Regions from separate parts of the Homo sapiens genome. Here region 2 is linked to region 1. Evidence: fine-mapped expression QTL. A gene starts in region 1. The other region holds a variant in brackets. All regions are shown on one strand. Distances are from middle to middle. Region 1 holds the start of DIPK2A (divergent protein kinase domain 2A). Region 2 has its middle 48 kb from the start of SLC9A9.

What was found.
Region 2: its variant is fine-mapped to the expression of DIPK2A in lung (TOPMed, PIP above 0.99).

The regions. Positions count from the first base shown.
Region 1 is chr3:143,964,596-143,981,381 of GRCh38, forward strand. It overlaps DIPK2A (divergent protein kinase domain 2A), which reads left to right and starts at 7,228. Exons shown (of 3, transcript NM_173552.5): 1 at 7,228-8,394. The coding sequence starts at 7,738. RefSeq lists enhancers at 6,534-7,114, 6,594-6,703, 6,974-7,063, 7,115-7,695, 8,704-8,963 and silencers at 6,794-6,843, 7,174-7,823, 8,314-8,553.
Region 2 is chr3:143,888,028-143,904,813 of GRCh38, forward strand. No RefSeq gene overlaps it. Among named protein-coding and RNA genes, the nearest start is that of SLC9A9, 48 kb to the left of the region's middle. The variant A/G (reference allele first, on the strand shown) is at 10,457.

The DNA of each region.
Region 1 (16,786 bases):
ATTTGAAAGGTTTAAAAATGATGCTATTATAATTTATATAACATTTGTATGGAAAACCCAAAAGAAACTACTGCAGTAGTTAATGGTGATGACTATTAGCAATTTTCCTAATTGCAAAGACAATATTAAAAAAGCAATTTTATTTCTATATGCCAACAATAGAAAAATTATAAAAAACATAGGCTAATGTTTTATTTGAAAAATATTTTTCTTTTAATACTGACTTAGAAAAATCTGTGGAATCTGAAAGTAATTTTTTCTTTGAGGTAGGGTCTTGCTCTGTCACCTAGAGTACGGTGGTAGGAACATGGCTCACTTGCAGTCTCGACCTCCTGAGCTCAAGTGATCCTCCCATCTCAACCTCCCAAGTTGCTGGGACTACTGGTGCGCGCCATCATGCCTGGCTAGTGTGTGTGTGTGAGTGTGTGTGTGTGTGTATTTATTGTTGAGACAGGGTTTCATCACATTGCCCAGGCTGGTCTTAAACTCCTGGGCTCAAGTGATCTGCCTGCTTTGGCCTCCCAAAGAGCTGGGATTATAGGCATCAGGCACCATGACTGGAGGAAAGTAATTTTTAAAATAATTATTTTCTTAGAATTTTCCCTGAAATGTCCTTTGCAATCTATTTCCAGTGTTATGTGGAAAAACAATGTAAAAATGCAATTCATTGGTAGTCATTTTGGTAGGATGATACATTCCAAAAAAATGGATAGACATACACGTTAACTATCGAATGATGTAATGATTTTTACAGAGTTTAACATTCCTTTTAGAACTCCAATAACTGTATTTATTTAACCTGCATACTGATGACTGCAATTAGGGGTCACTTTATCTTAGAATAATTAAATATATCATGATATCCTAGTTTAATCCATTAAATTGTTACTTTCAGTTTGCCAACAAGTTCTTATGGTCTGGTTATCTTATGATTAAATCAGCACAAAATATATTTCACTTATTTATAATTTTTCAAGTTTTATTTTCTAAGTAGCAGGCAAATTCTTCAAGGAAACCTAATTATAACAAAACAGTATGTCATATTTCTATTTCATTTGATGTAATTTAAATTTTAATTCCTGATTTGTCAAAAAATAATTAGAACTTTACCATTTCCCAAATATAAAAGAAAAATGTCCTGGATATCAATCTACAGAAAGGCATGAAGCTGCAAAGGACAGAGGAGAAGGTGATGATGTGTCAAATCAGATAGACCAGTGTATCAATTATAGTTCAAAGATGGAGACTCTCTTGGGTGAACCCATAATTCTACTGGCCATACTCCTTGATTAGACTACACTGGATAATAAGACATCTCTATAGTTAGTTCCCCAAAATTAGATATCTTAATTATTTGCCTATAGAGTTTTATAAGTCCTTTTGTAAGAAGAAAACAAAATGGACATTTCTGGACTATATCATTTTGAACATTAAATACACATTATATTTGATACCCAAGTGTAACACTTACCTGGCCTCTCTCTCCCAGCTGTGGCTGACCTTTAAAACTGGCACGGCCATTAGATTGAAGACTATAGCAGGTCTTTTACCTATACAAGTGGTTTCTACAAAAGGAGCCTGGTAAAGAAAACTGAGTCAGAAAGAAGGTGGCACTTTTGTTATCCGGATGAATGCTTTTGCTCTGAACAGGCAGTTGCTGTTCTCCAAGATCTCTGGCATGCTTGCCCAGAGAGAAGAGCTGTGTAGCCTCCATCATCCATAGAGGTGGCAGGAACACCATTTGCACAAGTCAGAATGAGGAAAGGTAGGAGACTTAGGATGTGAGGCTTGAGAGAAAAACAGTTGACAAAGCAGCAGCAAAATTCTCCTAGTGTACACAGCCTATTCTCCTGAGGGGAGTCATATAAGTGCAAATATAACATCTATAGCTACAGGAATTTTTTGTTTGTGCTCTTTTAATATTTATTTTATCTATTTGTCACAAACATGTAATGAATGTTGGTATGCATGTATCTGCCTCCTCCACTGGACTCTGAGAAACCACACACCCAGAATCTTGTACATGGTTGGAACTAAATAAACCACACTGTTAGAATGCATGCCAATCTTTAAAATAGACTATTGTAATGTTAATTTATACCTACATACATGACTTAATTTTCAAAAGATCTTAACAAGTGGGTACATAAGTCCCCTCTCAGTGATGTGTTAATTTTTTAAATATTTGTAAATATTGTGTTCTGTGCTGAAACAAACTGGAAAAAAACAAGTTTTAAAAATGTACTGAGCAAAAGGAAAATGTGCCTCTCTATTAACCTAGTCAATGTGGAAAACTATAACACTGCATAATATTTTGAATTAATATAAATCATGAATTATAATGTTACAGTTGCATTTGGGCTAATTTGTATTATTCTGACAAGGTCAGAAAATTATGTGATTCAATTATTTCAAGCAAAATCATGGTTTTAGTATGTATGTTTGACAATTCTATTTTTACAACCAATGAAGCCAACTGTTTGATACAGAATCTGTCCTAGAAAATACCTATGTAGAGAGTTATGGATTTAAAATACAATAAGATGTTTTAAAAATTCGGTTAAAATGCTAAACAGATTAAAAAAAAAACCCTTTAACAAAACTGGTCCTTAAGGTACCTCTCCTAACACACATAAATCAGGTAATTGAAACATAAATGGACACTGAAGAATATGGACACGTGAACTGTACTTGCATCTTCCTCATCCTTTTCCTCTCAGTCTCCCTCATCTCAGTACATGGTGCTAGGATCTGAATGGTTGTGTCAGTTGCACCCCCACCCCCTTGTGCCATAATTCATATGTTGAGCCCTAATCCTCAATGTGATGGTATCTGGAGGTGGGTCCTTTGGGAGGTGACTTGTATTCTTATAAAAGAGACCCCAGAGTGATTCCCTTGTCCCTTCTGCCATGCGAAGACACAGCAGAAACATTTATGAATGAGGAAAACACCCAACACAAAATTTGCAAGCACTTTGATCATGGACTTGCCCCCAAAACTGTGAGAAAGAAATTTCTGTTGTTTATAAGCCACTAGTCTAAGATATTTTTGTTCCAGCAGCCCCAAAGGGCTTAGACAAATGGTAATTCTTACAATAGTTTAAGACAAAAACCATGCCATAATACCTGATGCTTGCCTTTCTCTCACATTAAAATCTTGAGTAAACTTTGTTAGCTCTACGTTCACAATATATCCAGAATGTGCTAGCTTTTTTTTTTTTTTTTTTTTAACCAGCTAATACCCATCATTTCTAGTTTGGATTATTACAATAATACTGAAAGTGTTTATTCCTTCAATTGTTAATCCACCTACTACTGGAACAAACCACTTAAACCAGACACTGTTCTGGGTTCTTTAGTATACAGGAAATTATCTTTTTGGACTTTACAAAACGAATACCTCTTATCCACCCTGAATCTTACTATAGTGCACTGTCTCAGGACATGACTGCCAGAGCACTGAATATAGTCAATATGATAAAATAATTCTAATACCCAAGTAAAAAAATCATTTTCCAGGATGGGCTTCCAATGCTTTGCTTCTAAATCCAACTAACTTGGAAAACCTAATTGGTATGTCATTCAGAATATTCTGATGATAGATCACTATCGGTAAATGATTCTAGTCAAAAGGAATAAAAAGAAATGAATGAAATTGCTATATAAACATTCTTTTTATTTTTAAACATAAATGAAGATGTTTTGGCCCTTACATCTCTAAAAGCGAAGAAGAGAGAAAACTGATGTTAGACTTCGTCTGATTCTAGCAATAAATAATATTTGTTCATGGAAACCTAATTTTAAAAAAATGCCCAAGCTAATTAAGAAATACATTTCAATAAAATGTTACTTTTTATATTTATTCAAATTGGGATATTTGTTATTTTGATCAGCTGAACACTAATTATAGTTGTAATCATACAAAAAATTCCTATGTTAGCATTTAGGAGATTATGATCACAGGATATACACAAAATTTAAATACAGTTGTCTGTTGGTATATACCTGGGATTGGTTCCAGGACCCCCGGTATACCAAAATCCTCTCATACACAAGTTCTGCAGCTAGTCCTGCAGAACCTGCTTACAGTAAAAGTCAGCTGTCCTTGGGTTTCATATACAGCATATACTATATTTTTGATCCTCATTTGGTTGAAAAAAATCTATGTATGAGTACAATTCAAACCTGTGTTGTTCAAGGGACAACGGTATACACATATTTTTTGCTGCAGGAAAGGATAACCAATAAGGCTTATGCCTAAAACCGTACTATATAGAATTCTTGTTAGTCAGGGTTTCTCAACAGCACACTATTGAGATGTTGAGTGGGTTAATTTCTTGTTGTTGGGGGTTGTCTTTTGCAATGTAGGATATTTTGCAGCATCCTTGGCATGTTCCCACTAGACAACAGTAGTACCCCACTCCCTAGTTTATGAAATCAAAAATGTCTCCAGACATTGCCAACTGGCCCCTGGGAGGCAACAGTCCCTTGCTGAGAACCACTGCAGTAGAGAATAGAATAGTAATACAATGTAAAACTTTGACTATCAAAATGGATGTTAGTATCAAACTACTATGGTATTTAATTCCATCTGATAATATTTAAAACAGTGATAGTTACTGTAAAATGACATTTTACAATGCACTGGAAATTACATTATTTGCCATTACTTAAAATAATGGTCAAGAACTTTAAATGATCCACTGGTTGAAAGCATCCTGTAGTTTATAGGAAAGGTGAGTAATGCACATTAACCTTCACTTAGAGTTTTTTTTTTTGGAAACGGAGTTTTTGCTCTGTCGCCAAGGCTGGAGTGCAGTGGCGCCATCTCGGCTCACTGCAGCCTCCGCTTCCTGGGTTCAAGCAATTCTCCAGCCTCAGCCTCCCGAGTAGGTGGGACTACAGGCGTGCGCCGCCATGCCTGGCTAATTTTTGTATTTTTAGTAGAGACAGGGTTTCACCGTGTTGGCCAGGATGGTCTTGATCTCCTGACCTCGTGATCCGCCTGCCTCGGCCTCCCAAAGTGCTGGGATTACGGGGGTGAGCCACCGTGCCTGGCCCCAATTAAGAGATATTTTGCAAACCTTAATATGGCACTTTGGAACACTATATGTTTATCTTGTATAGTTCTAAGACTTTTTTCCTTTTGATGAATGTATTAAGTTCTTGAAAACTATCTCTCCTGATAAACATCTAGAAAATTTAACTGAAAAGATCAGAGCTTTTAAACAAATGTAAACTACTTAGATGCAGAGCAAATGTTTTTCAAAATTCAAATTGTGTAGACTAGTAACCGTGTTTTATTTCCATGTTTCAAATGATGCCTATACAATTCCAAGCATCTGGAGGCTGAGAATAGTTTAAGAACTCCAAAGACCTATTCGATACAAAGAAGCAGTACAGGTACCTCCTTAATCCTGTTACTAGTTACCTAAATAGTCTCACTATGCCCCGGTTCTCTCAGCTTAATCAGTTTAATGGCAACTTATGTAGTACTTTTATTGTTTTAAACCAATTCTAAATAGATTGTCTACTATTAATCGAACAAATTTATGAGGCATATAGAAAAGATGTCAGAAAGAAGAAATTTGTAGTTAAGTAATAACTTGCTTTGTTTACAATTCAGCAGCAGCAGCAGCCTCACAGCTGAACTACAGCACAGGTCTCCAGAACCATCACACCAAACTCCTTTTCCTAAGAAAATCTCACTTGAGCTTTTAACTCTATATTATATGGAGTTTGGGGATATTTGAAAGCAAGTTAAATAAAATTCCCACCAAAGGCGGCATAAGGCACTAGGCAGAAGTAGCCAAACTTAAGTACAGTAAGTCAATTTCTAGAAAGCTTTGAATATTATTTCAATTTGTCTGTCCGTATTCAATGCAAATCGTTACAAAATCACGTCTATTTTGAATTTATTAAATTTCTCAAAGTTTTTTTTTCAAAATCTGAGTTCTTATAAGAATTTGTAACAAATACCTGTTACAATTAAACAATACTGAAAGTATTGTTACTTTTGATAACCTGGTATAGATGTTTCTTATTAACCCGCTGTAGAGTTGATCTACACATGCCAGTTACCATGGTCTTCTAAAAGCACTGTTCAAGCCCTAAAATTAACTCAGTTAAGACTCAGTTGTTTAATAACGTATCAGGAACCACCTGTCCCTCAGACTAAAAATCACTTCTCATTTTAACTACTCTAGCACTAAAAGTGAATAGCATAATAATGTATCTACTAGCGCTACTGCTAAACAGTCCGGGTCCCCTGAAACTTATCCCTAAACACAGTGCTTTCGTGCGGCATCTGCGCCTTACTTTTGCAGTCTGGGGTGACTGAGTCAACGTGACCGTGCGGAGCACCAAGCAGCCCCGGGTCCCCATGGCTACCGCCAGGGCAACGCTTCGCGGCCCGCTCCTCAGGGACCCTCAGGGGCGGCACCGGGAAATCAGCTTTGCGGAGAGGAACCGCAGGGCTCCGGGGACGGGCTAGGGCAGCCGGCGGGCAGCAGAGGCAAGCCTGGCAAACTCTTCCCGGCTTCTTCGCGGCGCTTGGGGCAGACGTCCTGGCGACACCAGGCCGCGTCGGTTCCCCTTCATCCTATTTTCCCTTTAACACGGTGGCTTGAGAACTTTATTTTGTGCTCACTCAAGAAAATTTTAAATGATTTTACAGATACAACCCCAAAGATGAAGCTCCAACAAACCCGCCACTACTCGAGCCTTTCTCACCGTCTTCCTCACAGGCCCCACCCCCTACCGCGAGGAGCACGAGCTGAGGGGAACACAAGCCCCCGTCGGGCACTCCCCGGCCTCGCCCCACCCCCCAGGCGCGCACCCAACCCATATAAGGCGAGGGGAGGCAATCGCGCCAGCTCTGCCTCCGCCTCGCGCGCCGTCCAGAGGGAAGGATTTGCAATAGACTTCCTCAGTTCATTTCTTCTTATTCCCTCCTCCCTTAAAGGGCCGTTTCCACAATAGTGAAAGGAACGCACCAGTAAACCACAATAATCATAAAAGATGACTGTAATTAAGACTCTTTCTGAAACCAGAAACCGCGAGTTCATGCCCCCACCTCAAGAGCCCGAGCTTCCCCCTCTCTGAACCGCCCCCACACCCGCTCCCGCGAGCTCCCGCTTACGCTTTCCGGGCGGCGCGCGACGCGCTCGCTCCGCCCCTCTGGCCCCGCCCCCGGCTCCCCTTCTTGGTCTCAGGAGAGCCAGCGCGCACAAGCAAGGGTGTGCGGCTCTGAGACGTGCGTTGCTGCTTGTGGGTGTGAGACATCCTAGCTCCTCTTCCCCTTCCGTGAGTCCCTCCTTTCCTCGCAGACCCCACTTGTCGTGGCTGGCTGCCGCCGCAGCTCTTGTGCGAAGCCAGCAGTGCGCGTGCGCGCGGGCACGGGCGCGCGACCGTCGGGTCCCCGCGCTCCCTCCCCCTCCCGCTCCTCTATAACTTGGCTGGCGTGGAGGAGGCGCCGCCGGAGTCGGAGGGCGGGGAGCTAGGAGGAGGGAGCTCGAGAGTTGTGGAGACTAGTGACTGGGAGAAGTCGCAGCCCGCTCAGGCCCGCGCCTTCCCGCTCCCCGTCTTCCTCTCTCACACACCTACTCCGCCCTCCGCCCCAGCCCGCGCGCTAGCTCCTTCTCTCGCCCGGGGTTCCTGCCGGTAGCTCTCCGGGTCTTGGCGCGGCGGGGGCGCCCCGGGGGTGCCCTCGCCCTCCCGTTGCGGGCGGGCGGGCGGTATGTGGCGCCTGGTGCCCCCGAAGCTGGGCCGCCTGTCCCGCTCGCTGAAGCTGGCGGCGCTGGGCAGCCTGTTGGTGCTGATGGTGCTGCACTCGCCGTCGCTGCTCGCCTCTTGGCAGCGCAACGAACTGACCGACCGGCGCTTCCTGCAGCTCAATAAGTGCCCGGCGTGCTTCGGCACGAGCTGGTGCCGCCGCTTCCTCAACGGGCAGGTGGTATTCGAGGCGTGGGGCCGCTTGCGCCTGCTGGACTTCCTCAACGTGAAGAACGTGTACTTCGCGCAGTACGGCGAGCCCCGCGAGGGCGGCCGCCGCCGAGTGGTGCTCAAGCGCCTCGGCTCGCAGCGCGAGCTGGCGCAGCTCGACCAGAGCATCTGCAAGCGGGCCACCGGCCGGCCCCGCTGCGACCTGCTGCAGGCCATGCCCCGGACCGAGTTCGCGCGCCTCAACGGCGACGTGCGTCTGCTCACGCCCGAGGCGGTGGAGGGCTGGTCGGACCTGGTGCACTGCCCCTCGCAGCGCCTTCTCGACCGCCTGGTGCGCCGCTACGCGGAGACCAAGGACTCGGGCAGCTTCCTGCTTCGCAACCTCAAGGACTCGGAGCGCATGCAGCTGCTGCTGACCCTGGCCTTCAACCCCGAGCCGCTGGTGCTACAGGTAGGCGCGGAGCCAGGGCAGGGGGCGTCCTGGGAGGGGCCGCGCGTGGGAATCAGAGTCGGGAGAAGTGGCTCAGCCAGCGCTTGCCGCCAGTTCGGACTCGGCCGGGCTGGGCCAGGCTGCAGGCGTGGGAAGGGGCGTCTCCGGGGGAGCCCCGGGGCTGTGCAGGGAGGCCGAGGGCGACCCCGCTGATGGAGAGTCTGCTCTTGTTACCTAGATTCGGGCGCATTTCGGATTTGACTGTGGATCTTTCAACGCCAGAGGGAGTGCGTCTCTTAACACTCCCCAAAATGTCTCTACTGCGAGTTTCCTTCCGCTCTCTACCCTGCCTTTCTGCTTTTATCTGCCGGGGCTTGCAGGTCCGCGGCGCAGACTGTTCACGAGCCCTTGGACCTTTCCTAGTTCTTCTGAAGTGTTCTACACCGCGTTCGCTCTTCCTTTTCTGGCGCTGGTGGCTGGCCTAACTTCGGTCTCAGAGTCTTTGTTTTCGCTCATTTACCTGGCAGTCATTTGGACACCTAATTCGAGGACAAGTTGGGGAGGATGAAGTCGGAGAACGGGACAGTGGTCGGGGTGGGTTTAATCTGTGAGCCGAGCTTTGGGTGGGATTAGAATCAGAAACAGGAAAAGTAAGGCAGCGTTGGACTTGGGGCTGGGAGGGCTTAAGGCCAGACAGACGTTTTCATCCTGATCCTGTGACCTGCCCTATTCATCTGGTAATCTAGTTGAAGGGAGATGAAATATTAGGCCAGGGCGAGTATCAGGGAAGGAGATTCTTGCCTTTCGCCAGTTGCGTTGTTTGCTCTCGTCTGACTGTTTTGAAAAGTAATGTGCCTTTTAGGGGAATAGGATGGAATCTTTACTGGTGACATCAAAAAGAGAACAAAAAACAAAAACACTGTTTACTTTCGGAGTATTTGCTTGTTTCTGCACATTCCCACCCAGCTTCAGTGCGGTGTCCTTGAACAGTGATTACAACTGTGGGGTTGTGGTTTCTCCTTCTGTCTGCAGGAAAAGTTACCGTGCTCCTTTCCATGACAAGAGAAAAAAATGACTTAAAAGTTCACAAGTAATTTTGGTATACTTCACATTCTTTCTGGGTTGCTGTCACTGAGGGCTGGAGGTACAGGGTTTTTTTTTTTTTTATTTTTCTAAAATGCATGAATAGGAAAGTGCAGATTTCTTTATATTATTTTCTTTTCTCAAGCTCTACACTGCCCATTTTAGCTTTAAAAGAAACCAGCTTCGTTTGATTAGTTCAGCCAAATAATGTAACACAAATATTTGGCTTCAGATGAAACTTTAGTGTGGGTCTTAGTAAATTTTAGGACATCAGAGGCTATGTGTATTGGGTTAATTTTAAAGTCAGAGTGTGTTTTAAATACTGCTGTATCACCTAACTGAATGGATGCATAAAACTGGTTAAACTTTCCTTGAAGAAATTTTCTTTATTCAGTAGTTCCCAAACTAGTCAGTCTCTAAAGGTTTAGCCTGTATTTATGATGTACATACACTTGAACTGAAGTTTCTCATTAAGCTATCTTTAAAAGAGAACCTTGTTTGTATTAGCAAGGTTGGTTCTTGGAGATCGTGTTAGCATTTTGCTGAAGTAGATACCCGGACAAATTCTCTGAGACCCAGAAATTTAGCAAGGAGCTGTCTTAGTAATATACATTTACTGTACTTAAAATGCTGGCGTCCCTACCGAAAGATTTTTTTTTTTTAGGTAATTTTGAATAGTGATGTATTAGTAACAACTAACAGTAGAATTGATATTTTAAGAACATTATGTGGCCAGTTCTTTTTAAGTGTAGTCATAGCATTGAATTTGAGAAACTTTGGCATCTGATTTACACTAAGGTAAATTTGTGCTTTGTGCAGGAAGGTTTTATATTTTTTTAAGTTTGAACTTCTCATGGCATTCTCAGTTTACTTTGTAGTTGAGATAGTCAAGTGTGCGTGTATCTTGTTTTCTGTTTAACTTTTCCCTCAAACTTACTCTTTATCTGTTCTCATCTTTAGTGATGAAACAGCCTTTTTTGAAAAAGCACAATTATTTTCTTATATATGACACATAATGACACAGCTACTTTGAGTGGGTAAACACATGGGCCATAGGATAAGAATTTGTTTTTAGTATGTGATGAAACATGTCTCCACGTTTTAGAGTGAGGTTTGTAAATTACATTTTTAATTTACACAACCCAGTTCCCAGGAATAGTACTAATACTAATATATGTATTATAATTATAGCTGAGTACATACTGTGTAATATAATTTTGGGGTCTTTAGTACCAGCCAGTCATATAGGCATGTAATTTTTTTAAAACCTGATTAACAAGCAAGTAGAGGAAGAAGATATTTTTAAGTAAGAGTTTTCAGAGAGCCGCTGCTTTCTTTGTAGAATCACTTGATCTTTGGAAAAAGCTAGTGAATTTACAAGTCTGAACAATATACTTGAGGTTTGATGATTGTATAAAACCACCAAAATGAAAGGTATCTCAACATTCTGTGATCAAGTACAAAAGTTGCTGTACAGTAAGTCAAACCATGATGTTCATTACCTTTGTTAGCTAGGAAACTACATTTTTAGTATTTATACAGGTTTTTATAAAACTGTTTATAGCTGTTTACAGTAATACTGGGATATTAATTGATACAGAAAAACTCAGATTTGGCTGTCTATTGCTTCATGTATTAAAAAATATATTTTTAAGAGTACAAGTGTTTTAACAGCTTGAAGAGGAACTCACTTTTTTCCTCCAGGAGAGGGAGCTACTTGTCGAATTTTTGGACAGCTGGTGACAAACTAGATTTTTCTTATATTGTCCAAAAATTAACAACTTCAGGGAAAAAAAAGTCTTTGAACTGACTTCATCCAAGTATTCTTAACAAAACTTCCAGTATCGTAAGCATGCTTCAAAATAAGCATGTAAAAATTTCTTTTGATAAGGTGTTTAAGAACTGAAAAATACTTACGAATTTAATCCATTAAACTCACCTCTTCTGATTTGAAAAAACAGTAAAAAATTGAAGTTGCTATTATTCCTTGAAAGGAGAGGTGAAAGACATTAAGTGTCTAAGATGTTTACACACATACCTTATCTATGTAAGGCTGTAAAGATTTGTGATATAAATTTCCCCATATGAAATGGCATGAGAGTATGGCTTTCTTCTTATTGTTGGATAGTTTCACTAGTTTACAACAGTTTACCCATAGAATTATTATCTTCTAAAAAATGTTTATAAACATCAAGCAACAAGATAATGCTAGTAGTACCTTTATCTTCTACTCTGATACCCTTTCCTCGTCGTCACATTTTTACTTCACTAAGATGTGTGTATTTTAGTGCCAGGTATACTGTAATCCTATGAAAAAAAAAATGGAGGAGAGGAACTATGTTGACTTTTATATTGTGTAAATAGGAATCTTGAAGTATTCAAAAATTGAGTTGTTGAAGTAATTGGCAAGATCACAAGTTATTGTTGATAAATTTTCCATCGTATTTGTATTTAACCTATTGAATTTACAGAAAGGGAGAGTGTGTGTGTGTGTGTGTGTGTGTGAGAGAGAGAGAGAGAGAGAGAGAGAGAGATGCTGTCTGGATTTGTTGAAGTTCAGACAGAATCTCTGACTTTATAACCTGGAAGTAGTGAAGATGGTCTTGTTTGTAGGAAATGGAGAAAGCTCTTTGTTGTTTAGGGGGACGAGCTGGGAATGTTACTATTTGTGGAACTTCATTTGCCTTAAATTTTCTGAATCATGGTTTTAATAGGATTTACTTTATTTTTATAGTATATGACTATCATTAAGCTATGGTTTTTAAGCTTGCTTTTCTATTCTTATAAATGATATAATACATGCAAAGCACTTCACGTAGTATCTGGTAAATTGTAAGCATTCAATAAATGTTAGATATTGAATAAAGTAAAGGTAACTTTAACTGCCTGGTGCATTTGATCAGCTGTTTTGAAGCTCATTTGGGGTATGGATCACCTTAAAAATAATGGTGATTTTGAATATCAACCATACTTTAGTTATACTGATTTTTTTCCATTATTACTTTGATATAATTTTTTGTAGAAAACTTTCAGTGAATGTTGTTTTTGCCTTTAAAAGTAATTTATATAGGGAACAACATATTTTTTAAGTTCACTGGTGAAAATGTAGTTTTTGAAGTAAACAAAAGATTATTTAGCTAACGGTACTTTAGAAAAGTTGATAGATTTTTACTATTGGACTCACTTCCTTCTTTATAAAATGAAGCTATTGGATTAGATCCTTTTCAGCTCCAACATTCTGGGGCTTTCAAACTCTTGAGAAATTTGGTTTTTATTGTTGTTGTTGTTGTTGTTGTTTTCTTTTGAACTTTAACGAGTGGGTTTAATTAAGCTCTTCTGAAAGGGGATTGGGAGTGGGATGCTCTCTTTCAAGCCTTTCTTCCTACCCCCAAATTTTTACACACATGAAATAAAACAAAAACCAAAACCTTCCTTTAAGGGGAAATATGTGGAGTTAAGGGTAGCCAAGGATCTTGTGAGGCAATAGTGTGCAAAACGATGTTCCAGACTTTGTTTCAGGAGTTTCTTTTCAAACAACAGTTTAAGGAACCACCTACTTCTCCTTTACTGGCTGTTTCTTTAGTAACTGTCTTCCTAGATTTCGGCTTCAGAACACATTAGAGATGGTTCTTAGTAGAGCAGTTTTTAATCTAATAAATTTTGTAAGTTTTTGAACTTTTTGTGGCTTTTCATCTGAGAGTCCATTGACACTTTTGATTGCTCTTCAAGATAATCAAACAAAAATAATAAAACAATTTTGGATACCTCAAGTCCAAAAAGGGGGTGGGGACTTTTATTTTAGAAAGACCCTAGAAACAGACAATCGCCCTTAAGAAAGCATCACTTCAGAATCAGTAGAGCAAAGTCATTTGACATCCTGGACTAGTTTCTGGACATATCCATATCTTTTGACCATTTTGAATTTTGTCCTTTGTATACTTTTGTCTAGTCTTTGAACTATTCTTTATATTTCCATTGCATAGGTTAGCACATATTCTCACACATGTTGGGAAATAGAAAGCTTGTTTTTATAGGTCTTCTGGACATGGGTGTCCAGCTTCTCAGGGGATTGTCAGACTGGTTTTTATTCTGTTTTTTTGGTTTGTGGGCTCTGGCTTACTTCCTATTTTTCTGTCATTGCTGCTGACTCTTCACAGAATGCTATTTTTTTCTTTCTTCAGCTTTCACTCATTACCCATATGTTAAATTATGGCCTTATAATTTAAATCCTGCATTTTTCTAATACATTTGATGAACTTTAGTAAATGGTTGTAACATGACTGAAAATTATTAGTGTAAGGTGAGGTTAGTATAAGGTGATAGGAAGTTGTCTGTGAAATTCTTGAGAGCTCTTTGAATTTATAACCAAAAGAACTGAATTTGTCTGTTCATTTTACAATCTGTTACAAGGCATTTGGATTGAAAGGATGGAAAGATGGCCGTAGGAAACAAGTAGCTTACTATGTAGGAGGTAGGTACACAAATAACTAATTATTATACAATCCATTTAATAAGCCCTGTACAAAAGGTATCTATATCTATCTATCTATCTATATATATATATCTATATCTATATATATATATATATCTATATATATATATATATATCTATATATAGATATATATATATCTATATATATATATATATATACTGTCACATGACTCAGGGAGGGACATCTCATTGTATATTGATAGGAATGGTACCAGGGAAAGTTTCAGAGATTTTGCCAATAGATGGGGGTGGAGAGTGGGAGGAAGGGTGGAGGGGGCAGTATTGATAGAGCATCCATTTCACATTCTGTATTACCACAAAGTTGTTGGATGGTATTGAGCAAGTCACTTAATGTTTCCGATTCTAAGTTTTTTTAATCAGTAAAATGGGGTTGTTAATACTTACCTAACAGGATTGTTTTAAAGATTAAAGAAGAAAGGATTATTCAAGTAATATCTGTTAAATGTTTTCAGTTGTAAAGCTTTTTACAGTGTATTATTTCTTTGAAAATCAGCTTATTCCATTTTTAGACAGCTATAGTAGTTAAAAGTTCTTTAGTACATTATGCTGATGTCTGTCTTAGAAATGTAAAAATCCTACTTTTCTTATTGCAGACATTCAAATGTCACTGTCCTTACATATACGTAAATCATATGTACCTATTCAGGCTATAGTTTTTTAAAAATAGTAGTTTAAAAGGGGATTAGGGATTTGTCTCATATGAAGTGTAATGAATAGAATGAATATGGTAGGAAAGACGGTTTAGATAAGGATTAAGAAGTAAAAGGCAAATAGTTTCTTTTTTTCTCTGTAAATCATTATTATAGTTTAGTAATTCTATTTAGTACATTGGTAAATGGTAGTACAAAAAAACAGGTTAAGTCTAGACCTTAGACTCTGAGACAGAATCTTAAAAGATTTGTAATCTGAAGTAAGTATGATGCTTCAGTGTCTTCGTATTTTTTCTTTCTAATGCTTTTTTGGGGGTTAACTCTGAAATGAAAAGATCTGACAGTAATTATGTGGAATTGGTCAATAGTGCCAGGAACTGATCTGTATATACCCCTGGGACACAGTAAGGGTCAGTTGAGACTAGTAAACTTATGCATATTTAAAACTTGTGAACAAGTGAAGTGTTTTTTGTTTTGTGTTTTTTTTTGGTGGGGGCAGCATTTCTTAAGCAATTTATTCTAAAAGATAATCTATTTCTATTAAATTTAGTTTTTAAAATGTGTTTTGACATCAGTTTCCAATTTTAGATACAGCTGTTGGACATGATATTCAGTAAAATAACACAACCTTACTATTTTCAAGGCATTGTTTAATATTGTTGGAATTTGAGGTGGGTGGAAAATGGCATTCAGAAAATTATTTCATGAAATAAATGGGACATATGCTAGGACTTAAAAATCTTGAAATTGTTAAGCTTCTACAGTATTTGCAATGGATTTTGGCTGCTATTTAGCAGTATAAATTAAGAAGCTAAGATCTTAGAGAAATTTTAGCAAAAATTCAGTAACCATTAAATCATCCCCGTAATTTTACTATATCTCCCCTCCAGACAGTTCACCAAACTGTGAACACATTAGTCTGTCACCAGTACAGTTGACTAATCTTTATGAACAGCTGTTATAACATGCGTTACTACAATGGGATTTCATTCAAATTTGGGCTTTAAAAAATAATTTTAAAACTTAAGTTAGCTCTTTCTTTCTTTTCTTTCTTATGTGTCTGTCTGTCTTTATTTTGATGGAGTCTCTGTCATCCAGGCCGGAGTGCAGTGGCGTGATCTCAGTTCACTGTAACCTCTGCCTCCCGGGTTCAAGCAATTCTCCTGCCTCAGCCTCCCGAGTAGCTGGGATTACAGGTGCTCACCACCACGCCTGGCTAATTTTTGTGTTTTTAGTAGAGACGAGTTTCACCATGTTGGCCAGGCTGGTCTCAAACTCCTGACCTTAGGTGATCTGCCCACTTAGGCCTCCCAAAGTGCTGGGATTATAGGTGTGAAGCCACCGCGCCTGGCCCCTTTAAGCATTTTCTATGCTTTTGATGACATATACTTTCTAAGAGTGTTTTCAAGCTTAAACTTTTTTTTTTTTTGTAGAAATGCCAGTTATGTAGAAAATCGATATTCACATTTTAGATTGTATGTTTTATTAATAGTTTTTTTGAAGTTAGTTTGTTTATACTAAGAACTTTCAAGTTTAACAAAAATCAGTCTTGCATGGTAACACATCTCTTGGTCTGTACTTATTTTCTCTCTTAAGGCAAACTGCAAAGCTATGTTCCTTTTAATGGAATATTATGAGGTAATGAAGTATTATAAAATATTTTATATTGTATAAAAGGAATTTTGATCTTTTAAATTTAGTATACAATATTTTTGGTCATGTAGGAGAAAAAAGAATACAAGCACTTTTAAGTAGACTCTATTTTAATCTATTAGTCTCATGTCATTTATTTTTTGTAAGTAAATAAACAATACCAAAATGTATTCTTTTATGTATCTTTACTCATATATTCCATGTCCACCCTTTTCATGACTGTGTTATGGCATGATAGAATGAAATGGCCTTATTAACCTGGCAGGATGGTGGATATTGATCAAAGGGTTATCGTGATATTTTAAAGGCTTGTTTTTTAGAATAAGGTAAATATACCATAGCATACTGTTTGATTTCAGTATGTAAGATAATCCTGAACATCAAGATTTTGACATGTATTTGTTTTTGCATGGCATACATATAGATGATGCTATAAAGACTGAGTTGAAGATTTCTGTTTGATTCTATAAGTCCCAACATGATCTGGTCCTTGCTTCACTCTCCAGATTCCCTT
Region 2 (16,786 bases), 77 kb before region 1:
GGCACAGGCAAAAGCATTATATGCCACACTCCAGATATTTTGATTTCCCTGACACATACTTTCCAAAAAACACTTTATTTGGGTATGTGCATGGAAACTGGAAAGATTTCTTTGTTTATGATGTTTGGATAGAAAATATTTCTGATTTAGAACATTTGTTTTGAAAATATTTTAATACGTCCTTTTGTTTGGGAGATTTAGGGAACAGTAATAATTTTTGCAGAAGATTTCTCTCTGTTGCTTAAATGTCAAAGTGTCTGTGGAAGTGCTAATGCAGCAGAGTGTAGTCCTGAGATTCACAGCAAATGGAGCTCTGCTGAAGCAGAGTGCAAACCATCTCCGTGGTAACCTCAGGACATCAGTGCATGCTGGGTTCAGATGGGAAGAGGGTCAGGGTCATGAGCACAGCTTCTGGAAAAAGTTCCTTCTGCCCCAGTGTTCTTCCAGATCTAAATCATGTGGCTACAAAAATGTCCTTTGAAGGTACTTTAAAATAATTTACAGGTATACAGAAGGGTTAATGCCTGGCTAGCAATGTGTGAAGCACATAGAAAGTTTACCCTACAGACTCAGGTGTGCAAGAATGTCATGTTTATTTAAAACAATTCAACTTTAGTTTATGTCTTGATTTGTCAGAGTTGTTGGGAAATTCAATCTCAGGATTATTAGGCTTTCCTATCAGGTCCGGGGTGGTTCTGGCAATCTTATAGAGAGAAGAATGGTTCAAAGGTGTAAGAAGCATTCAGGAGTTTGATCCCTCTGTGTTACTTACATGCATTAGCAAAAGCTATATGGTTGCTGAAAGTCAGGGGTGCTGCTCTTGGCTTGGGCCAAGGTATGAGATTCTGATGACATTCATTTTCTGATATCTCCCAGGACACCGAAGAGGCCTCAGGTCCTCATAGATCTCTGCCCATTTCTCCTCTGGAGAGATCATTTTGCTTTCTTAGGCTGCTTCTGAAGTACCCTCAGAACACTCTTGCCCTGAGGAGCCATTATCACAGTGGTTTTCTTAAGAGTGATCCTGAGCCCAGCAGCAGCAGCACCTGGGAGCTTTTTAGAAATGTAAATCATCAAGCACTACCCCTGACCGACTAAATCAGAATCTCTAAGTGCCCAGCAATAAATGTTTTAACAAACCCTCTACATCTAATGCAAAGCTAAATTTTGAGAAAAACTGACCTATCACAATCCTGTCAATTAACTCAGAGTTTTGAAGACGAAAGTATTAGGCAACTTCTGTTTTCAGCGTTCAATATATCACTCTCAGCCCTACTCAAGGCAAGGGAAAGAAGAGGCCTGGCTGTATTCAGAAAATAGACACTAAAGATAAAACATAAGCATGTTTCATTCTTTCTGACTTTTCTATAACAGGAAAACAAAAACACACATTAATATCTCAATAAATATTTTAATAAATTGTCCTACCACATAAGGTTTTTACCTTTTTACCAATAATAGGTTTCTGAAATAGCAAGTTCCAAGCATGAGATGTGGTAGCAGTGTGCTGGCTTGGGATTAGGGGTTAGGAATGAGACTGGGAAAGCAGGATAAAAGGTGAAAGAAAGGTGCTACATCAAGTATAGGGAAGAAAGATGAGGTTTCCCTGGACCAGCGTGAACTCTTAGAGGAGCTGGACATCCTAACTTTTGTCTCCAAAAGTGAGGTCTCAGAATGGTTTTGAAGTGGTGATTGTAAAAATGTGCTGACCTACTCTTTTGAACCAACCAAAGTGTGAAGCATACGGAGCCCTGATTGCCCTGAGATGCTGTGACAGAGCCCTAGTTGTCTGTGGGTTTTCCTCTTTCCTTTTCTCCAAGAGAGTAGAGTTTTACCTGGTCATGTGGCCACTTAGCTACAGACTACCATTTCCTAGGCCCCTTTGCATCTAGATGTAACAAGTGGAGTGTGAACAGAAGTCGTGTGCATGTCACTTCCAGGCCTGAACCTTAAAACACTGCACACGCAGCCTTCTTTGCACTTTTCCTCCTATGAGCTGGAAGAGTGAGGTGCTTGTGACCCACCTTTGACCATACAAATGAGGGCCACAACCTAGAGTTGAAGCAAGAGAAAGGGAACCGGGGTCTCTGAATGGCATGTGAGGCAGAGGAGCCCACCAACCTGTCCTGGACCATTAGGTGAGAGACATAATCTTCCTTAATCTACTGATTTGTTGAGTTCTTTGTTATAGTAACATATTTTCATGTAACCAATACAAAAACCAAGGACCCATGTGGGGAATCAAAGCCATGCTTATAATTCACTGAAGCCCAAATAGCACCAAAGCCCCACAGCGCCTGGCACTCAGGAGGTGCTCCATAAATATTAAATAGTTACTAAATGAATGAGTATGGCGCCACTAGGAACTGATGAGGCAAGAGAAACCCCACTGTTTCATAAAATAATCTGCCTGAAACTACATCGGGTAGCGAGTTACCGTTTACCATGAGAAGAGCAAGGAGCTCACTGATAGTGACAATGGGTTAAAATCAAATGGGAATTTTTGTGTGTACAGTGTAGAAATGATTGTTAATTACAGAGCAGTCATTTTAGTGCTTTGCGGATGGTAATCACAGTCACCATCATTTTCTAAAACAAAAGACTTACACATGCACAGACATATGCAGACAGGTAAATTCTTTTTTTAACAAATTTGAAGAGACATCATGATTGCTATGTTGTACATTGTCCATAAGAAACTGAAAGCCCATTGCTATAACATGCAGAATGAATACAAAGTAGCTTTTCACTTAATCTGTAAAAGGCATTTTTTTTTTTTTGCTACGTATGGCATGACTCCAACTCCATTTGCTAAACATTTTTGAGGGCCTACTATGTGAGAGGTGTTGTATTAAATACAATGAGGAATTCAAAGATACCAACAAAAAATATGAATAAAGATGTAGGAGGGATAGGGTGTTACAAAACACAGATGTTTAGATTTCCAAGAAATGGCTATTAATTGTATTTGTACCGTCCTGGCTCTGTTGAAACTCTCTGTGGTGTCTCTTTTTAATGCCTATTGCATATGTTGTTCTGAGGTTTAAATGAAATAACATACATAAAGCACATGGTACATTGAGTAACCCCCAGCAAATGCTAGCTTCTTTGTTCATACTCTGTAATGAACAAAACAGCAAAACACATTTTTCCCAGTGTTTTAAAATTTTGAAATAATTTTCAAACGTTTTCACTGATGATTTATTCTGGAGCCGTAAAAATTTTTTTTTGTCTGTCACAAGCCCCTATATATACATAAATGTTCTCACACAGAACCTCATCCAAAGCAAGCAAAGAGTATTATTGCATTTTGCAAGCCAAAGGATAATGGGCTATGAAAGTGATCAATTCTATTCTAGTTACTTAAGCTGAAAGCTGGTTTATTGGAAAGAAGACCAGTAGTTTACAGAGTCCATGGAGAACTAAAAAATAAACACTCATTTCCATCTTCCCCTAGCTATGGGGGCAATTGTTACAATGTCACTGCTGGCATGGTCACCCTGGAATACCAGATGTGTGCTTAAAAATCTTCCTTGGTTTCCGTGACTATCTGTTAGTACCAGACCCTATTTCTGCACCAACTCAGAGCCGCTGAACCCTCATACCTTCAGGCTTGTGCCACGTGCCTGGCTTTCCAGGCAGGCAGTTCAAGAGAGATGGCTCATGGTGTGAAAAGCTCCACTGCAAACATTATCATATCTTTTATTTTATCAATCTCCCACTTCACCTGTGAAGTAGGAGATCAGGCACCCCCCTTGGATGGGGTTGGGTTTTGCATGGTCAATGTCTTGTCACTATGGCTTCTTTGTCAAAAAGCCAAAGCAGCTTGAGGGCTAGTCCAACCTGTTTATAGATACACAGAGCCTTGCCCAGAAGCTGCCCCTAAGACAGTTTCCATGCTCTCGATAGGGACCGTCTCACATAACTAAGCCAGCAAGTTGTGTCTTCTTGAGAGCTGTGGGTAGCCTAATGGTGCATCACTTTGTATTTTCCTTCTCCCCTTTCCTTCCCTTTTCTTCCCTCTGTCTCACTTTCCTTTTCCCTCTCACTTTTGCTTCCTTGGAATTGCACCTCCTCGATAAAAACATGGCATCTGAGCTTTTTTGCCCAGGCTTTGTTTCCTAGGGAACCTGTGCTAAGTTAGCATGACACCCCTAAATTTTAAACTTCTGGGCTGGAGCAGTCAGTTGGCTGATACTGGGCTACATCCCACATCCTTGCTGCCAGGGAACTGGGAAAAGGAACATCTGCCTCACTTATGATGCTATGATGAGAGGCGGAGTCCTGCCTCTCGTCTATTTGGATTAACCTCAAGTAAGAACAGTGTTTGGATTTTGAACAGGCACAATGGTGACAAATGTTCCCTCCGAACCCACTTGGCCTTAGCAGCTCTCTTCCTGCTCCTGGGTTTCTCTGGGTAGAGTGTCGCCCTCTATGCCGTGTCACCCCAGGGTATTTCCTCCACTTCCATCTCCTAACCCTGCCAAGTCAGTCTTCATCTGTTATAGACCCTTTGTTCTGGTGTGCTTGTTTTTCCCACGTTTCCCATTAGACCACATGTCCCATATTGCCCCATTCTTCCTAGCATCCCCATCCCAGAATGCAAAATTTAATTCTCTTTTGCATTTCACAGTCCACAGGCCAACCAGCCAACTGTCACACTTAGCCCTCACACTGGTCCCTTGTGTGGTTTAGCATTCCAGTTCTTTGCTTCCTGCAAAGTAAGAGGGGATAGTTTCAGATATAAACAGAAAATGCTGGATATTTTACATCTTTTAAGTAGAGAAAGATTAAGTCAGAACCAGCAGGAATCCAATTCTTTGGATTTGAACAAAGTGACTAGACATCTCGGCCTTTCTTTTGTAAAGAAGTATCTGGGGAAAGGTCTTGGACTGGCTTCAAAGGGGATTTTCCTGTAATTGTAGATGCCCTGAACTATAGCTATAGCAGACTATTTTGCAGCCTAGTCTGGGGAAAATGTACACATTATGCAATTGTTTAAAGATATCATTCATTCAGGTAAACAGAAGTGATAATGTTCTTGGTCAGCCCTCACCTGCCATGATTAGCAGGCTCACTCTCAAATAGTACTCAGGATCTTCAGGACGTGTTAATGTTTTGCATTTTGTCTCTCTCATTAACACAGATGCTGTGTCTGGCTATGCAGATTCTGTAATGCACAAGGGCACCACATATAAGGGGCATCATTTTCATTATAGACATCATAGATTTATTGTAACAGTTTTCTGGCAGATGGGAGTTAAGGGTTTTGTTTTAACAAATTAATATACCAAATCCATTTCCTGGCAGAGGCAAGTAAAGAGTTACCTTTGAAGAAGAATGGGCACGTTTCCTAGTTCTTATAAGGATGTTGTAAGAGGTAGAAAGAGCTCTTTTTGTCACTCCTTCAGCCCAGATGAGTGGACATCATGAGATGCCCTGACTGCTCCTAAGCTGCTTTGTCCTGAGAGTAGACAATGTTATTCACATATTTCCCCAAAGCTCAACTGAAACCAGCTAGAGTGCTTAATGCAACTGAAGGCTTGGAGCTTACAGAGGGAAATAAAAATATAGGAAAGGAAAAAGCAAATATCTTTATATTTCAACTCTTTCCTTCCCTTGGTCAGGTCTGCTGCCCATTTGTCTCTTTAGCCCAAGGGGATGACATGTTTTAGAGATCAGCTTACTGCCTGTAGCTGTAAGTGTCTTTGACCATGTCACAAGGGAGGGGAACATTATATCCTTATCCCAACCTATCTCTAGCGTGATGCCCCTTGAATGCCATGATAATCTCTGCAAAAATGCCACTCTGACAAAAATGAAGAGACTCTACTGCACTTGCTAATGTAGCTCAGCTTAGCTTTTTTGTGTCCTGGCTTGGACATTCTGAAATTTAATTTGTCTTTACCTTTGCTTAACAAAAGGGCCATTAATATATTTTTCACAAAATTAAATTTAGGCTACTTCTTAGCTAAAACAACAAATAATTGTCTACATCTCTAGCAGTCACTCCTTCAGAATCACTGGGGTTCAGTCCTTGAAGCCTCTTACTACATATTTAACCAGTATTTAAGGAGCTCCTTTTAGGGCCAGACCCTGGGCTAAGCACTAAGAATATCAGTCAGAAGCAGGTGTGGCCCAGATTACCTTCCAGCTTGGAGAAAGCAGCAGGTAGATAAATAGGTTCAAGAAACTGGCAAAGGGGTGACCATACAAGTATGTACAGGTTATAGTTGTAGCATGAGGAAATGGTTCTTTTCAACGGGTTGGAAGCAAAGGATTATAAAAGCTTCAAAACGGAGGAAGTTACAAGCAGTTGGCATGGTAAATAACAGGCAAAGGGTATTCCTGTTAGAAGAGCATATGCAGATATTGTCAGAAAACCCCAAGCAGCTAGGAATGTCTGAGTATAGAAAGGTGGGGAAGTGTCTACCAAGAGATAGAACGAAAACCCTAAGATGTTTCCAGATCAGAACGGGCCTTTTATGTTGTACCAAGAAGTTTTGACCTCAAAAGAACTGAGATGAAATATTTGAATCATAAGAGAGCTATGATTTTATCCCTGCTATTTGAAGAATTGATAAGGTCAAGGCACCAATTCCTAGACTGTCATGGTGGTCCAGGTGAAAAATTACAACTTCACGGAGCAGCCCCAGAGCATTTCAGAAGCCGAAATAAATGGATACGGAACATGTTAAGAATTGGGGATCAACAGAATTTGATGACTGGTGGTCCAAGTGAAGCAGAAGGAGATGTGAATATGGTAACATCCTGGGTTTGTGGGGAGCGGAGGGCTTTTTTGTAGTATTTTTCTGAGAGAGGAAACATAGAGAAGCTATGCATGGAGTGGGGTTTGTGGGGAGCTTTAGGTAAAATTAGAGCAGTTCAGGTTCTAAAAGTTTTATCATTTCCATGTCTTATGCACCTGAATCCCTCTGGGCATGCCACATTTTCTGCCTAAGGAACCCTCAAAACCTTCACAAGGGCTTGGGAGTTGGGACAGGGAATTGTTCCAGCCTTTACCTTTCCACTTCAGGCAGGACAACACCCATGCATTTATTGCTCCAATTCCAGATTCTCTTGCTTGTTGTCTTCACTGGCCCACCTCACCACAAGAGACTGACTGGAAATCCAGTTTCCATCCTTTACATCCACACACTCCCAATATATCACCAGGAAAATCCCAGTAAAGAGCGAATATGCAGTACTGAACTTTGGAATAAATCAAGTCACATAGTAGAGAAAGTGTAAGTGATATGGATCCATCTGACTGTGAACCTCTGGTTTTCACTTTGGGGTCAATTACCACCTCCGCAGATATGTCAAGACAGGCAGATAACAGCTAGAACCTATTGTTACTCAAGCTTGGAGATCAAAAGAAAATAAGCAGAGAAAAACATATCAAAGAAAACCCCAAAATCTCCCCTGCTGTGGAAATTTTCTTGTGGAGAGGTTAAAAATTTCCTCTGTCGGCCGGGCGCGGTGGCTCACGCCTGTAGTAATCCCAGCACTTTGGGAGGCCGAGGCGGGCGGATCACGAGGTCAGGAGATTGAGATCATCCTGGCTAACACGGTGAAACTCTACTAAAAAGACAAAAATTAGCTGGGCGTGGCGGCGGGCGCCTATAGTCCCAGCTACTCGGGAGGCTGAGGCAGGAGAATGGCGTGAACTCGGGAGGCGGAGCTTGCAGTGAGCCGAGATCGTGCCACTGCACTCCAGCCTGGGCCACAGAGCGAGATTCCATCTCAAAAAAAAAAAAAAAAAAAAATTCCTTTGTCTTGGGGTAAAATGTATTCAGAAATTTTATCTTACAGCTTGCAGAGTCATCGCTATTTCTCTTTTGTGTTTTTTTTTTTTTTTTAACTTTTAAGTTCAGGTGTACCTGTGCATTTCTTTAACAATACAGTTCATCTGAGTTGGTTTAGACATTCTAATTAAAAAAAAAAAAAAAAAGTTCCAGCAGGGGTCTCTCTTTGCACATGGTACAAAAAATTCTTAACAGTCACAGTGCAATATTTTTTATTTTGCTTATCCATCTTACAATGTAAATGAATGTGACTGCAAAATATGTCAAACTCTTTTCTTATATTATTAGAAAATCACTGAAAAGACATTAAGTTTCATATTATGATCTGGGAGGTGATTAAACATGTGTGTTCCCTATGTGATAATTCAACAAGTAGCAAATTTATAATTTAGGTACTTTTATGTTTACACATTATGCTTTTAAAAAGCTTGTTTTTAAGGGTACAATTCCTAATTTTACTCCTAATCATGTTTCTTTGATTTTTTATTTCACTTCTCATGTATCTAGAACATTTAGAATTTTGGTCATTTATGTATTTCATTGAATTTTATACATATTTTACAAATGATGCTTGGTGTGTATGTTTGTAGAGAAATAGAAAAAAATTCAAAAACATAGCTGCAATATTTTTTAAAAACCCATATTTTAAACTGAGGATTATCCAGTAAAAAGGTTTGTATTGGTTTTTGAATCATGAACTCTCAGAAAGAGGCAGTCATTGTTGGCACCCAAGCTTATGGGATGGATCCCAAAGGTCAGATAGATGATGGTTCTGTGATGTGATCTGTGACTTGGTCTGTACTTCTGATGAAGGCATGTCAGCAGGGCCTCCGCCTGAATACTTGGGCCTTCCTAAAGAGGTTTCCTCATCCTGGCTGTCAACCAGTGGACTTATTCTTAGCTGAAGAAACAATGACCACAAACCACCCCTTGCCATTTTAGCAAATCACACCCAAAATACCGTGAAAGAAATGCCTGTCATTTTTTTAAAAAAAAAATCCTATTATAGGCCGGGTGCAGTGTGGCTCATGCCTGTAATCCCAGCGCTTTGGGAAGCCGAGGCAGGCGGATCACGAGGTCAGGAGACCGAGACCATCCTAGCTAACACGGTGAAACCCCGTCTCTACTGAAAATACAAAACAGAAAAACAAACAAACAAAAAAATTGTCTGGGCATGGTGGCGGCCGCCTGTAGTCCCAGCTACTCGGGAGGCTGAGGCAGGAGAATGGCGTGAACCCAAGAGGCGGAGCTAGCAGTCAGCAGAGATCGCGCCACTGCACTCCAGCCTGGGCGACAGAGCGAGACTCCGTCTAAAAAAAAAAAATCCTATTAGAATCTGTGGGACCAGATTTCTGCAAAGCACCCAGACTGCTGGTTTTATTTCTATGTTTTAATCTCAAACTTGTGTTATTTTTCTCTTGACTATTTATGACTGCACCTATAATTTCTATTTTCATTCCTTTTTTAATGTCTTACTTATGAAAATCATTTCTTAATTCTACAAATGAAGTATTGACATTTTAGTGGCATCTTTTATAAAAAATATATTTTCCCTTCCCAAAAAGTTAATATTGGGCCATAAAAACCTTCAGTCCTGTCTGATAATAAAATATAGAAAATATCAATTGAAGATGTTTTATTCCAAATGACATTGCCACGTACTTTTTAATAGTATTAGAGTAATTCCCTTAATTGTTTCATGGAAAAAAATCCATTAAGATCCTTTAATGAAGAAAACATATATTTGTAATGGACCAAATGGCAATGTGCCCTTGTCTGAAGCAATTACACTGTCCAATAAAGGAAGACTCACATTCAAATGTGGTACCTTTGAACACCAAATATTACAAGAATTCCTAGTCAGCAGGATGCTATGCCAAAAGCACTCCACAAATGGTTTTCCCCTTTCTTACTATCTCGTGGCCTCATTCTAAAGATCTCTTCAATACTTCTATTAGCATACTAGAGAGTTTCAACATAGACTTTAACATTCCATGCTTATCTGACCCTGGGCTATTAAAATTGGTAAACATTATGAATCTTCTCATTTGAACATGGCTTTGACTATCTTATGTTTCTGCGTTTCTTCCTGCCTTGCTCTTTCTTAATGCGAGCCACGTCTCTGCCCTCTGTTTTGCTTATTGTTTCCCTTCTCTCTTGTTTGTTCAGCTTCTGTACAATCATTTCTCTTTGCTCTGGCCCTTGCTCTAGCCTCATGTTCATTTCAGCCTCCGCCTTTTTTCCTTTTCAAACGTCTTTGATTCCAGTTGACAGTTTAAGATTTTTTTTTTCTTTTACTTCCCAGAGGCTCCTGTTGCCATAGTGATACTTGATTACGAAGGCCATGACTGCTTCCATTGACACTCTGGTTGCTATAACAATGCCAGTTAGCCAAGAATTCTGTGGAAACTTGTGAGAAGGATGCTAGTTCACACCTTTCTGTGGGACAGCTTGCCAGGAAATGCTTCTTATTTAATGGTTGTTCCTAGTACTAAAACTTAAGTCCGTAAACTTAAGGGCAGCTCATTCTTCAGTAACTAAAAAACAGAGACACAAATATTTACTCTTCACACCATGTAAAATTCCTCTTCTTCCCTGACTTTGCTTGCCCTCTATTCCTAATCTATTAATTCTTTGGTATTAAAAAT[A/G]TGTTTGCTATGGGCTGAATTGTGTCCTCCCAAAATTCATATGTTTAAGCCTTAACCCTCAATGTGACTGTTTTTGAAGATAGGGCTTTTAGGAAGCAATTAAGGTTAGATGAAGCCATTAGGGTAGGGTTCTAATCTGATAGGCTTCGTGGCCTTATAAGAGGACACATGTTTTCAGTTATAAGTGGGAGCTAAATACTGAGTACACACGGACACAAAGAAGGGAGCAATACACATCTAGGCCTACTTGAGAGTAGAGGGCAGGAGGATGGAAAAACTACCTATTGGGTACTATGCTTATTACCTGTGTGACAAGATAATGTGTACACCAGCCCCCCACAGCACATGATTTATTTGTAGAACCAGTTTGCACATGTACCCCTGAAACTAACATAAAAGTGAAACAAAAAAGAGGGCACTGCAAGAAAGCAGCCACCTGCAAGCCAGGAAGAAAACCCTAACTAGGAACCGAATCAGACGGCATCTTGGTCTTGGATTTCCCAGGCTTCAAAAGTATGAGGAAATACGTTTCTGTTGTTTAAGCCACCTATTCTATGGTATTTATGACAGCACAAAGTGACTAACATGACACCCTAATATTATTTAACATCAATACCTCCTAAGTGCTTTTGATTTTAAAGACATCAATTTCTGGGAATATACCCAAGTAAGAGAATCACAGAATATTGCGATGTGCATTGTCAGTCTTTTGTCTTTGAATACTAGATGAACCAGGTGATAAAAATGGACACATTTGGCCAGGCGCGGTGGCTCATGCCTGTAATCCCAGCACTTTGGGAGGTCGAGGTGGGCGTATCACCTGAGGTCGGGAGTTCAAGACCAGCCTGACCAACATGGAGAAACCCCATCTCGACTAAAATACAAAATTAGCCGGGCTTGGTGGCATATGCCTGTAATCCCAGCTACCCGGGAGGCTGAGGCAGGAGAATTGCTTGAACGCAGGAGGCGGAGGTTGTGGTGAGCCGAGACCACCCCAACACAGTCCATCCTAGGCAACAACAGTGAAACTCCGTTTCAAAAAACAAAAAACAAAAACAAAAACAAAAAAAAACAACAACAAAAAACACACCAATGGACACATTTATTGCATTTTTGTGATCCTTTTTGTTGTTGTTACAGCTTTTTTAGTCTCAAAAATATAAAGAAATATGTAACTATTTCCATCTTTATAGATACTATAACTCACCCAAGAAAAGCTGTACAAAATGTTTCTTTTGTTGCAATTGTGTTACCTCCCTAGATTGTTAAGTTAGACAGCTTGCAATCATTCACACTGGTCCTCCCATTTGCGCCACTCACATGAAGAAAGGGAGCAGCCACAGCATCAAAGCTTGCTCAGGACTAACATATAAAGACCTTTTTAGTGACACATGTTCTATTATACAAAGTGCCAGATGAAGGTCAGTAACTGACCATGCACAACCAGAAAGGAGGAATACAAACTTGACATGTTTCAAAGTGTGTTAAAGTAAAAGATATAAAAACACAGAATTTTGCTAACGATGTGTTATCGGGTCAATTTATTCATTGGCTCCTACATTTGCCTCCACCAAAGGTGTCAATCAAGATAACATTAATTTATTGGAGCAGATGTGAGGCACTACAATATTTTTTTTAAAAAGTGTCAATATTCTATATTCTCAGGGCATACTTTTCCAGAAAATTGAAGATGTAAACATTCTGGAATTGTTTAATGATTCCTAGAGAATTTCAAGCAAAACGATGTTGCCTGTAGAGTGATATGAAAAGTAGTTTGTGGTTATTATTCTAATTATTCTAATTGTGCTACAAAACTAGTTTCTTTTTCTTATCATAGAACAAGAGCCCCTCTGTTATTACTGTTAATAACAATAACAACTTCCTATTATGTACCAGGCACTACATTAAGTACTTGATACCTATTATCTTCCTCCCCCACCCTCCACCGAGAGGGAGTCTTGCTCTGTCACCCAGGCTGGAATGCAGTGGTGCGATCTCAGCTCACTACAACCTCCACCTTCTGGGTCCAAGCGATTCTTCCACCTCACCTCCTGAGTAGCTGGGACTATGAGTGTGCACCACCACACCCGGCTAATTTTTGTATTTTTAGTAGAGACGTGGTTTCACGATGTTGGCCAGGCTAGTCTCGAACTCCTGACCTCAGATGATCTGCCCGCCTCAGCCTCCCAAAGTGCTGGGATTACAGGTGTGAGCCACCACACCCGGCCAGATACCTATTATCTTTAATTCTCACTATAGACTTGAAAGCTAAGAAACTAGCACATGGGGAAACTGAAGTTCTGAGAAGTAACGTAACTTGCCTAACTTGCTCACATTTTGAATATTTCCCTTCAGGCTCAGGAAAGTAAACTGACATCACAGCCCAAAACATGATCAGTCAAAGCAGCATACCAGGAACCCTAAGGTTGGCCCTATATTCAGTTGCATACATTTTGGAATCACAATAACTAAATCCAACTAACTGAACAATGGTTACAAATTAACATTATCTTTAATTTGGCTTGTTGGTTTATTTCTTATACTATCTAGGCATCAACCCCCAAGCACTTTTCTTCACCATCATCCCCCACTTAATGAACCAGGTAGAATGTAGCTGAAGAATGCAAATAAGATTCATGAAACATTAAGTGAGTTTTAGATTAGGTTTAATTATTTAAGGAAACTTCAAACTGGAAATGTAGAAACTTTGATCTCTAAACTGCTGCAGCTTTGAGTGACTGAATTGCTGAAAGTGTGTTTGTATGTGTGTGTGTGTGTAGAGAAAAAATAGCAAATGAGCAAGAATAGGAGCAGAGTGACTCAGAGGAATCAGATCTGTTGCTGTATTTTGTAATTTCATTAGTCATTTTATGAGTAATGGATTAGAAATTATTGCAATATATAACCACAACCAATTTTAGGACATCTGCATATTACTAATTGACATATAATATAAATAAATTGCCCTTCTGAGTATTGTGACTTTGCATACACTTTGGTTCCTGGGAATCCCAAGGTATAAATGATTCTGTCTAATACTTGGGTTTCTCAGACCAAACCTTTCATGTCTCTTAAGGGGGAAAAAAACCCTCATCAATAAAATATTCTTCAAAGAACTGTCTTCTCTTTGAACATGCTCATGTCATACTGAGTTTCTCCATAGAAACAAGAGGATTCTCAAATTTCTAAGAGATGCTCTCACTAAAAGGATGCTAGAGATTAGAATTTTAGAGATAATAGGGAGAAGGGCCAGACTAATCCAGTGGGAAATTAAGCAATGGCTTGTAGATTATCAGGCTATTCATCACCTGGTCATTGTTCCCTCTGCTGTAGCTACTTTCATGAACTAACCCCAGAAAGCAAGAAACAGAGGGTGTCTTCCTAGTGCTTAAGTCTTGGGTCATCCAGAGTGCATCCCTCAGGTTACTGTTTAGAATACAAGACAACTTGCAATAAGAAGCAATAACCCTCCTTGAATTATCCATAGAAATTAGCAAATTGGGAAGTGCTATGGGTATGGTGTGGTAAGAAAAGGAATAGGTGAAGAATCAAGAAACCTGCTTTCTTATCCCAGCTTTCTCATTCTAGGAACAATTTTGAGCCAACTAGTTATTATTTCTGGGCTTTAGTTCCTTCTAAAAATGTAGGGGTGCTTCAGGTAAAGCTTTGACAGTGTCTCCATCACTAATATTATGGCCACTAAACTGAGAAATGAACAGTCTACATTTTAGTAGACTTCTAGTCTACTAAAAATGTAGGAGTGCTTCCGGTTCCTTCTAAAAATGTAGGGGTGCTTCCGGTTCCTTCTAAAAATGTAGGGGTGCTTCAGGTAAAGCTTTGACAGTGTCTCCATCACTAATATTATGGCCACTAAACTGAGAAATGAACAGTCTACATTTCTGCTCCTCAGACAAGGATGATACACAGTTGTCCCCTGGGGACATGAAACTATAAAGCATTCAAGGGAGGAATGGCAAGTGACTGCGTAAATGAGCTTCTGGTTCCTTGACTACAGGATCCTGATGCTTTAGACTGTTAAAGATCTTTCTTAATAGCTTGTTTACACCCCCTTGTTGCAAAAAGTATTTGAGGTGACTTAGATAACTAGCAAATTAAAATAATTTGAAGTAATTGGACTAAAAGGAAAATGAGCTTAGTCCAAGACCAGCACATCAAATATAAAGAGGTGGAAAATTGGATTCTAATCTTCCTGTAGGTAAATTATAAAGAATAGTCAACTACAAAATTCACTGTATCTCTAAGTACCGTGTGTGGTAATGCTGGCTGTAGTATAAGTAGAGGTGAGGTGCTTTGCTTAGGACAGTTATTCCTACAATTGAAGTAAGAGATTGTATTAGTTAATTCCCACATTGCTATACATAAATACAGGAGACTAGGGAATTTATTTTAAAAAGAGGTTTAATTGGCTCATGGTTCTGCAGGCTGTGCAAGAAGCATAGTGGTATCTGCTTCTGGGGAAGCCTCAGAAAGCTTCCAATCTTGGTGGAAGGCATAGGGTGAGCAGGCATCTCACATGGTGGGAGCAGGAGCAAGGGAGTGAGAGGGGAAGTGCTACACTTTTACATGACCAGATCTCATAAGAACTCACGTACTATCATGAGGACAATACCAAGAGGGATGATGCTAAACCATTCATGAGAAATCCACCCCCACGATCTAATCACTTCACACCAGATCCCACCTCCATCATTGGGAATTACAATTCAACATGAGATTTGAATGGGGACACATATCCAAACTATATCAGAGATGTTTCTCATGGTTTCTTACAAAGGAGAGATATGTGATATGTCATAGTGGTTTTCAATTGGGATATGAATAGAAGAGGTCCTTGTTAATATACAGAATTATATGTTAGCATATAGAATCATAATCCTAAGTGACAATCTCAGGCTTATGATTAAGTAGCTTTGCATGCGTGCATTTGACAAGAGCCTCAGATTCTTTCTTTTTTTTTTTGAGACAGAGTCTCACTCTGTTGCCCAGGCTTGAGTGCAATGGCGCGATCTCCACTCACTGCAAACTCTGCCTCCCAGGTTCAAGCGATTCTCATGCTTCAGCCTCCCAAATAGCTGGGACTACAGGAGCATGCCACCACGCCCAGCTAATTTTTGTATTTTTAAGAGAGACGGGGTTTTGCCATGTTGGCCAGGCTGGTCTCAAACCCCTGGCCTCAAGTGATCTTCCCACCTTGGCCTCCCAAAGTGTTGGGATTACAGGCGTGAGCCACCATGCTTTGCCAAGAACTTCAGATGCTTTTGATGTACTCAAGTCCATGGACATGCTTTAGAGAAACCACTCCTCCAATGAAGATGATGTTGACTTTCAAGGGATATTTTTTCAATGGATTCTTCAAAAGAAGCAGATGACATAGGGGCAAAAAACCAAATTAAATAAACTTTATGTGGTCAAAAAGAATATACAGTCTGGGTACACAGCTCTCTCAGGTTCATGTTTGATTCTATGTTAAAATATAAAACATCAAGAAGGATTAAAATAGAGGTCACTCCTTATAGTGAGTTTAAAGGTACTCCCTTCATAATAAAAGGAGGCTGGTAGCAAACAACTGCATTGTTAGACAGAGTTCGTTGAACATCATATGCAAAACTGTCTTTTATTTTGGTTCAGGTTGATTAATCCAAACCCTACATACTTCACAGAGGAATTGAGATTTAGGATTGGCTTCTTGACTCTCAATTGTCTGCAGTTCCTTAAAAACTTGAAGCCAAATTTTTAAATTGTCGAAGTATCTCCATGTGGCCACCCCTCTGAGGTTGGAATTTGGCAAGCAAACTCTTTGTTTTTGATTCTTTCTCTTGGTCCTCCCCCTTCCTGCCATCCCTTGGTCATTTGATCATTTTCACTGTCGGTTTGCCTCAATTACCTCTTTTTTTTGTGGCAACTTTATTGAGGTATAATTTACATGCCCTAAAGTCCACCTGTTTAAAGTATACAATACTTTTTTTTTTTTTTTTTTGGAGACAGAGTCCTGCTCTGTCTCCCAGGCTGGGGTGCAGTGGCATGATCTTGGCTCACTGCAACCTGACGGGGGTCTCACCATGTTGCCCAGGCTGGTCTCAAACTCCTGAGCTCAGGCCATCTGCCCACCTCGGCCTCCCAAAGTGCTAGGATTACAGGCATGAACCACCACACCCTGCCTAAAACATACATTTGTATGGCTTTTAGTATATTCAGACTTGTGCAACCATTGCTACAATAAATTTTAGAACATTTTCATCACTTCAACTCCTCCTAAAACCTATATACTTCTCAGCTGTCACAATTGGTTAACTGCCCCTTCCCTCCAAT